3 separate regions of the Homo sapiens genome follow, and regions 1 and 2 are each linked to region 3. Evidence: fine-mapped expression QTL. A gene starts in region 3. Each other region holds a variant in brackets. All regions are shown on one strand. Distances are between the middles of the regions. Region 1 overlaps EXOC1 (exocyst complex component 1). Region 2 overlaps EXOC1L (exocyst complex component 1 like). Region 3 holds the start of EXOC1 (exocyst complex component 1).

What was found. PIP is the estimated chance that this variant, and not a neighbour inherited with it, causes the effect.
Region 1: its variant is fine-mapped to the expression of EXOC1 in nasal epithelium (TOPMed, PIP above 0.99).
Region 2: its variant is fine-mapped to the expression of EXOC1 in transverse colon (GTEx, PIP 0.98).

The regions. Positions count from the first base shown.
Region 1 is chr4:55,888,711-55,891,477 of GRCh38, forward strand. It overlaps EXOC1 (exocyst complex component 1), which reads left to right. Exons shown (of 19, transcript NM_001024924.2): 11 at 178-222; 12 at 1,513-1,676; 13 at 2,605-2,712. EXOC1-AS1 (EXOC1 antisense RNA 1) reads right to left here. Exons shown (of 5, transcript XR_941069.4): 5 at 882-1,816. Among named protein-coding and RNA genes, the nearest start is that of EXOC1, 36 kb to the left of the region's middle. The variant A/G (reference allele first, on the strand shown) is at 1,325.
Region 2 is chr4:55,826,722-55,829,488 of GRCh38, forward strand. The region is part of intron 1 of EXOC1L (exocyst complex component 1 like); the gene reads left to right. Among named protein-coding and RNA genes, the nearest start is that of EXOC1L, 8.3 kb to the left of the region's middle. The variant C/T (reference allele first, on the strand shown) is at 1,216.
Region 3 is chr4:55,852,364-55,855,130 of GRCh38, forward strand. It overlaps EXOC1 (exocyst complex component 1), which reads left to right and starts at 1,285. Exons shown (of 19, transcript NM_001024924.2): 1 at 1,285-1,590. RefSeq lists a silencer at 1,077-1,176.

The DNA.
Region 1 (2,767 bases), 36 kb after region 3:
CTCAAACAGTAGGTGACCAACTAAACATGTGTTTGCACTTCTTGTTACTTGATGCTCATGGTTCTTTGCATGTGTCTTTTAAACTAGAGCTTTAACTTCCTCTTGTGCATGGTTTGTGCAAATTGCAGTTTATTAACTTGTCTTTGTCTTTGATGCTTGCAACCTAATCCATCACAGCTACACTGCCTCGAAAAGAAAGTGCTGTCAAACAGGAAACAGAGAGTGAGTATGCTTAGTGTATTAGTAGGTATTCTCAATGCATGTTTGTTTAATGTCTAGAAATTAGTTGTCTTGAAAAAAGGTAACACCAAAAATTTTGATTGCTCTGAATTGCCAGGTATTGGTGAAAGAAAGCCAACATGATGGTAGTGATATGGCTGTATCCAAGAAATATATGATATAGTTAAAATTACTTGACGAGTAGTAGAACATTGTGTCAGAAATTTGTGAAAAGACTTAACCATTATACTTCTATTTTCAGGCTGTTTAGAAACTATAAAAAATCTTATATAGATATGGTCGGATTTTACATAATGAAGCCAAAGTTTATCTTTAATTGTACCTGTTCTGTCTTCATTTGTCTTTTCTGACCATTAGCAAATAGTACAAGTTAACTGAGAGATATTCAGGAAGGATGTTTTTAAAATATATTAGTTATTGTTTATGTTTAATTCTGAATAAAAATATCACATTTTCTTCTAAAAATCAAATCCTTTAATTCCTTGGTGTATGTGAGCTATTGCCAGCTATATGTTCTCATTTTTCCTCATGGCTATGACGGATACCAAAATTTTACCTAAACACAGATGTCCCATATTAATATGATTAGTGATGTATGTATTACATTTCGGCTGTATTTTAAATATAACGAGTTTTCAGGGTGTTTTTTCTGTTCATTTTATTTAGTTTTTAAAGGACTATAATCAGTTCACTTACTGGAAAAGCAGTTTCAGAGTTTGGAACATACTAAGTTGAATCATATGTAATTGACTTTTTTTGGTAGGGCAAAATGATCAAGTATGGGCAGTTTCATGTGGTTCAACCTAATATATTGATTTATTGTGGAGGTAACATTGAGATGCAGCAGTTTTCTTCTGAAGTATAACAAAGTCATGCTGGCTAATATGCTAACGTGGTCCTCATTGACCTTCATCCATATTCCTGTCCTTTTGAATGGAAAAGAAACCCTCATCTACTTTAGTCTAGCGATATCACCAGGCGACTTTATGAAATGGGCAGGTTATAGACAATATGCTCCTTAAGGTCCCTTTCAGTCCCGTTCTATGGATCTGTGTAGTTTCGCTTCTTTTTTCAATATGCTCAG[A/G]ATTAGGACACCAATGTTAATGGAAGATAAGGAAACTATACCACCTATCCCTTATAGAAGATTTGTGCACTAACTAATATGAGCCCTGGAAGATCAAGCCAGTAGAAGATAGAAGATCTATCCCTGCTTTATACTTTGGATCATTTATTTGTGAAGATCACAACTTTCAAAGTTTTATTATTTCTTAGGTCTTCATGGAAGTTCGGGGAAATTAACTGGATCTACTTCTAGTCTAAATAAGCTCAGTGTTCAGAGTTCAGGGAATCGCAGATCTCAGTCATCTTCCCTGTTGGATATGGGAAACATGTCTGCCTCTGATCTCGATGTTGCTGACAGGACCAAATTTGATAAGGTAAACTAAAATAACAAGTACTTCTTAAACATTAACATTAGTTTTCTAACAGCAGTTTGTGGTTGCTCTAAGTGTGTTCAAAGATTTGGGTTCTTCTGGCTCTCTTAAGCATTAACCATGTCTTTCCAACTGAATCGAATCTGGGAAAAAAAAAAAAAAAAACTAGTCAAAGGACAAGTAAAATGTGAATTATCAATGAAATGGCATAAAAGCTTTATTAAAATTTGTTATAAATCATAAAATGCTTATATCTCAAATCTAAGTTGTTTGGGCACCTAAAAAGTAAGAGGAAATAAAAGCTTTTGTGATGCTGGCCTTTCTCTGTACTAAATTAAATAAGTTTTTTTGTTTGTTTGTTTTTGAAATGGAGTCTTGCTCTGTCACCCAGGCTGGAATGCAGTGGCACAGTCTCAGCTCACTGCAACCTCCACCTTCTGGGTTCAAGCAGTTCTTCTGCCTCCCTCCCAGGTAGCTGGGATTACAGGTGCCTGCCACCACACCCAGCTAATTTTTGTATTTTTAGTGGAGATGGGGTTTCACCATGCTGGCCAGGCTGGTTTCGAACTCCTGAGCTCAAGTGATCTGCCCGCTTTGGCCTCCCAAAGTGCTGGGATTACAGGCATGAGACATCATGCCTGGCCATAAATAAGTTTTAAAAGTTGATCTTTGTGCTCCTCTTTCCAGATGTGAAGTGAATAACTGTGAGTTTTATTTTAGGTTTATTTTGTGGCCTTGTTATACCTTGCTAATACCATTGTCCTGTAGATCTTGGAAGAGTTTGTTTTTGGGATTCCATTGAGATTATAAATTCATAGATTAGTGAGATTATGGATCCATGGTCTGTGCAGAAAAGAAAATTAAATGTGGAGTGTTATTTTAAGCATTTGGTGCAGTTCTTTCGTTATAGGATCACTTTGGTTTTCTTCAGATCTTTGAACAGGTACTAAGTGAACTGGAGCCCCTATGTCTGGCAGAACAGGACTTCATAAGTAAATTTTTCAAACTACAGCAACATCAAAGTATGCCTGGAACTATGGTATGGCTCACAGTGTATTTTGGATAGTATTTATGATCTGTAATATAATTAGCTT
Region 2 (2,767 bases), 26 kb before region 3:
CATTTAATTTTAGCTGGCAGCAAAGCTGAAGTGTGGAAATTAGGGATTGGGTTGACTCCAGGCTAAGTAGACTTCTTTGGCTTGTGGCTAAAGACAATTCTTGGAGACTCCTTAGCTATAAAGGAAGCTGTTTTGTCAAAAGGTTAACTTTTAAAGAATGCTCTTTTACTTTCTTAGTTTGGTGTTAATGGGACAGTGACCATTAATGTAAGAAAATGTGATGACTCGTAGGACTCACCTTCTTCATGTCTCTTCTCTCCATTCCCCACCTCCAACCTATCCTTTATGGAAGATCACAAAATAAGTTTCTGAACCTTAAAAGCTCAGTCTGTCCATTCACTTTAAATCCTTCAGTGACAACTTCTCTCTCTTATACAGAGAAATGCATGGCTTTCAGAATAACCTTTGATCTTCTCAGCCTGGTATTCTAGACCCCTCAGGAACTAGTCTTGCCTAACTTGTTCCCTGCCACCTGTCCACCCTCACACCTCATGCCAGCAATACCAGATGCTTTTAATGACTTAAAAGTGTCAAGTATTTCATGCCTTTGTGTGAATGCTTTTCTAGAACTACCTTTACCCATCTTCATTCTGCTAACTTCTACTGCCATTTACAACTCAGGTTACCTCTCTCAGGAAGCTCTCCCAGACCCCCACTTGGATGAAGACATCCTTCCTCCACGTTCCTCAATTACTTTGTCTATTTCTTATTTGCAGAACTGTAAGCACAGGTTTTCTTTCTGAAGACCCCACTCCCTACAATCTCAGTGACAGCAGGAATGATGCCTTATGAGATTTAATGTTTTCAATTCCTAACACAGTGCTTGGTACAAAAAGGGCACTCGAATATTTATCAATTTAATGAGATGAATGTGTGGCCTACAAATGACCATAACATGCTTTTCATAACATGTAGATGAGGCAGTGGAATTTGCTCCATGAAAATTACATTTTTCATACCTCCCCAACCCCATTCTCTCCCACCCCCTAAGCACCATGTGAGACATCTAGCTGGAGCAAGAACATAGTCCTTTGGTTCTGGGGTACAGCTTCTTTCTGGGCATACAACTGCCTCCTGGTGGAGGAAAATGTCTCCAAGATCTTGTCCTTAGTAAGCATGACAGATTCAAGTGTGCCTCCACTTCACCACCTCTGCCTAACAGCTTCACTTTTAATCCTTTCGTCTTCCCAAGACTAACATCTACACCAGTGGAGA[C/T]GGAAACTTTTTAGTGCTAGAGAAGGATAGGTGGGCAGAAGCCCACCAACTTTGGTACACTGTCAGAGGGATCACAGACTCTAAACTAGCTCATTGACCCCAAGTTAAGATCTTCTGCTTGAGGTCCTCTCCAGAAGATGTGCCTTAGTCACTCTCTCTGCCTCCAAAACGTATAATCCCTCCTCTTCCAAACTCCTGGAATATGTGATCTCCATCATAGCCTTTAGTCTTCCTTCCTATTACCTTTGTAAATCCTACCTAACCTTGAGGCTGGCACACAATGTGCACTCAAATAGTGTTAGTGCATGAAGGAGTCCTCTGCAAGTTGTCTTCTGCCCTCAGCATTCTAGAGAAACTGCCCTCATGGAGGAAATTCACGATCTTCTTCCAAGTCAGATTCAGTGCTAGGGCTGAACTCTGCCTTACCTAATAAAGGGACTTAACGGGATTGTCTCCAAACCTTTAAACTTCACCATCCTCTTGATTCCCATAGCATTACACAGCTGGGCCTGTCTCTCAGACCCCTTCTCAGACGTCTTTCCTGGCATCTATTTTTCTTCTCACTTTCTCTCACCTCTTTCCTCTGCTCTTTTCTCTACAAATGTGGTTTGGGGGCCAGGCATGGTGACTCTCACCTATAATCCCAACATTTTGAGAGGCCGAGGCAGGAGCATGGCTTGAGGCCAGGAGTTTGAGACCACTATCACTATCACTGGGTAATACAGTGAGACCCGTCTCTACAAAAAAGATAAAAAAAATTAGCCAGGCATAGTGGTGCATTCCTGTAGTCCCAGCTACTCAGGAGGCTGAGGTGGAAGTATGCTTGAGCCCAGGAGGTTGAGGCTGCAGTGAGCCATGATCATGCCACTGTACTCCAGCTTGGGTAACAGAGTGAGACCCTCTTTCAAAATGAAAAACAAACAAACAAACAAACAAACAAATGACGACAACAAAAAACTGGCCTTGGAAACCTTTCCACAGGAAAAAACCCAAGTATCTCCATTCCTAAACTACAAAACTTCCATCTCATTCTCTTTTGAGATAATTTGTGGCTACTTCAACTGTGTGTCAAAAACAAAACTCATTTTTCCACCCAACCAACTCACCCTCTCTACTTTCCTATTTGGGTTTGTATTCAGTGTTTGGTTTTCATCCAGTGTTGTTTCCATCCAGTGCTATTTTAAATCTTACTTGGATTTTCCACGTCTTTATCCATGACCCACATCCCATGCCCAGGTTACTACAACAGCCTCTTAAAACAAACAAAACAAAACAAAACATTTTTAACAGTTACTGTAAACCAGGCACTATCCTAAGTTCTTTATATATTTTGTCTACTTTAGTCTTTACACCCTATGAATTTGGATCATTCTGATGTCTATTTTACAACATAAGAAAAGTGAGGTTTAATCTCTCTAGAGATTAAATCATTTACTTAGACCACACTGTTGAGAGGTGGTGTCATGATTTAACTCCAGAATGTCCAGTGCCAGAACTCATTAAGCTGCATTGCATTTTCCAGGGTCCTCCAGTTCCTCTTTCATTTCTTCTT
Region 3 (2,767 bases):
TCCCTTTTTGTTTTGTCTTCTTCCTCTTCCCTCATTTTGCTCCCTGGGATCAAATTTCCAAATAAACTATTGCATATAAGTGTCACTTTGCAGGGAATCCAAGAGGAGAGAGGATAATTTAATTTTTGGACACACAAGTTTGAGGTGTCTATAAGACATCCAAGTGGAAATGTCAGGCGATGGGCAGTATATACACAAATCTTGAGGTTCAAGAAAGAGATCTAGGCTTCTGAAATGCAATTCATTTCCCAACTTTGAGGAGGGCTATAAACATACAGGTAAATAAAAGAAAGATAATAGGACCAAAAAACACATGCAATTGTCATAGAGTGTCCACAGTAAGCATTCCGGTGCCAAGCAGGAAAGGGTCTTTGTAAAGATATAACCAGATCCTGCTCTTAAAAGGGAAGTCATTTGATGAAAGTGAAAAGTATTCTAACTACTGTTTGCTCATTTAAATTTCTAGCACATTTATCTGATCTGTACCTCTCTTTGGTCACTTATTTTGTGTCCTATTTTATATATATTTGTACCTACACCTTGTCTAGTCCTACCACACTGTGAACTCCTTTAGGTTAAGATTCATGCCTGAATCACCTCTGTACCTGGAATCAAAGTGCCTAGCATTAAAAAAAAAAGGTGCCAGGAATATTGAATAAATAAAACACCTACCTGCAACCAGCAACATTGGCATCATTTATGCATCCCAAACTTAAATATGCATAAGCATCATCTTGCTAAGATGCAGATTCTGATTCAGTAGATCTGAAGTGAGCCAGAGAGGCTGCATTTCCTAAAAAGCCCCCAGATGATACCCAAGCAGCTGATCCACGGACCACACTTTGAGTATCAAGGTCATGAGGACAATGGTTCTTGACCTTAGCTGCATATGAGAATCATCTGGGAAGATATTAAAAGTACTGATGTCTGGGTCCCACCCGCAGGGATTCTGATTTAACTCATTTAAGCTCTCCAAAGTTTAAGTAGCAAAGATCTAGAGTTAATAGAGCTTTACGTATGAAAAAAGAAAACATTTAATCGAATTTCTTCTTAAATGAATTGCTGCAAATATCTGAATAAATAACTCTTAATCCCCAACTCCCAAGTCAGTTTCTGTGCCACAAAGGCCCCGCCCCTGCCCTTCCCTGACACGCCCCTCCAATGAGGCCTTGTTCCGCCTGGCCACGCCCGTCGGTTGGCGCCCCGCCCCTCCGCGTCTATTGGCCGCTCCCTTTTTCTCCCATCGCTGCTTCTTCCTTCTCTACGCGGTCAACTTCCGGCGCGGAGTTTGTCACGTGCCCGGATATAGGAAGTGTTGGGGGAACGGCCGCTTCCCGTTCAACGCTTTATTGAGGGGCGTATCCTAGTGGCCCCCATCCGGTCTCCGTTTTGGAAGACCCGCCTCGGCACAGCCAGGCTCAGTCCGGCCTTGCGGTAAGCCTTCGGCCGCGGCTGCCCGGTAGTCCCGGCGGCGGCGGACAGACGAGCTGACAGGCACCAGGGTCTAAGGCGGCTCCTCAGTCCGGCTGCTGTCTCCACGCCTGGGGTCGGGCACCGCTCCTTCTGACCTTCCTTTCCCCGTTTGTCCCGGTAAGACGAAGTTTGGTCAGAGCATTCTCCAGTCCCTTGTCCTCGGGTCTAGGAGAATGCGGAGCTGGGAGGGCAGTCCTCACGGGCCCCATTACGGTTCCGCCCATCGGAACCAGATTTTGTTTGTGCAAAATGACCCTGATCGTAAGCTCTTTGGCGTGGTCCAGGAGAGGAGAGCGTGACTGTGCCTTCCTCTTTGTCCAAATTCACATCCCGGCCCCCCAACCCCAACTCCCCCCCACCCCCCGCCAAATCTCTTAAGTGTATTTCTCTATTTCCTTGCACAGTTATATCTTCTAGATGGCAATGCTTCATGCATTAATATATCTCAGCAGCATACAGGGCCCAATGCACACGGGCACTCACACTGACAGGCTATTTGTCACACAGTGTGGTGGTCCAACTGAGCTGAAGGAAACAACCAGTACAGAGTAAGCAGTGGATGGCTGCCTTTGGAACGTGGTCAGATATGGGTTCTCAGACCTGGAGAATAATTTTAGAGGACCTCTAGGGATTTATTTACTGACTTTCAGAAAAGTACCGTAAAGACTGAAGAGTTAATCACTCGACTCTTAGGATGTAAATGCCATAGAAACACCCGGCTTCAGGTCTTCATAAACATATCTGTCATGTTGACTACTGTAACCTAGAATAGTGTCTGCCACCTAATAAGCATGAGTATTTGCTGAATGAATGAAGAGTCACATACTGCTTTTCATTATGGCTAACTCCTTTATGAGGTATGCCCAATCCTGTCTTGTTTTGCCTCTTACTGTACACTCAGTTGCTTTTAGCCAGAGAAGGAGTATGTGGTAAACGTTGGTCCCTATTATTCATTTGACCAGTTTTTACTATTCAGTTCTAATTACCTTAATAGATATTTAAGTATCCACTAAACACAAAACTATGATGAACATCCCTCCCTTCTTTAAGAGAATTCTTGAGATAGAGAAGCTTATGATTTAATGAGCCCATTAGACGGCAAATGCAGTAAGTGCTGTAGAAATTTAGAGGAGAGATCACTTTGGATTAAGATCTTCATTGAATCAACTTCATGTAAACCATGAAGTGTAATTAGGGTTTGGATAGGGCGGAGATGATATTCCTTACATGGAAAGTACCAAAGTGAAGATTTGATGTCCAAAATGAACAGAGTGTTTGGAGTGGAATGTTTTTG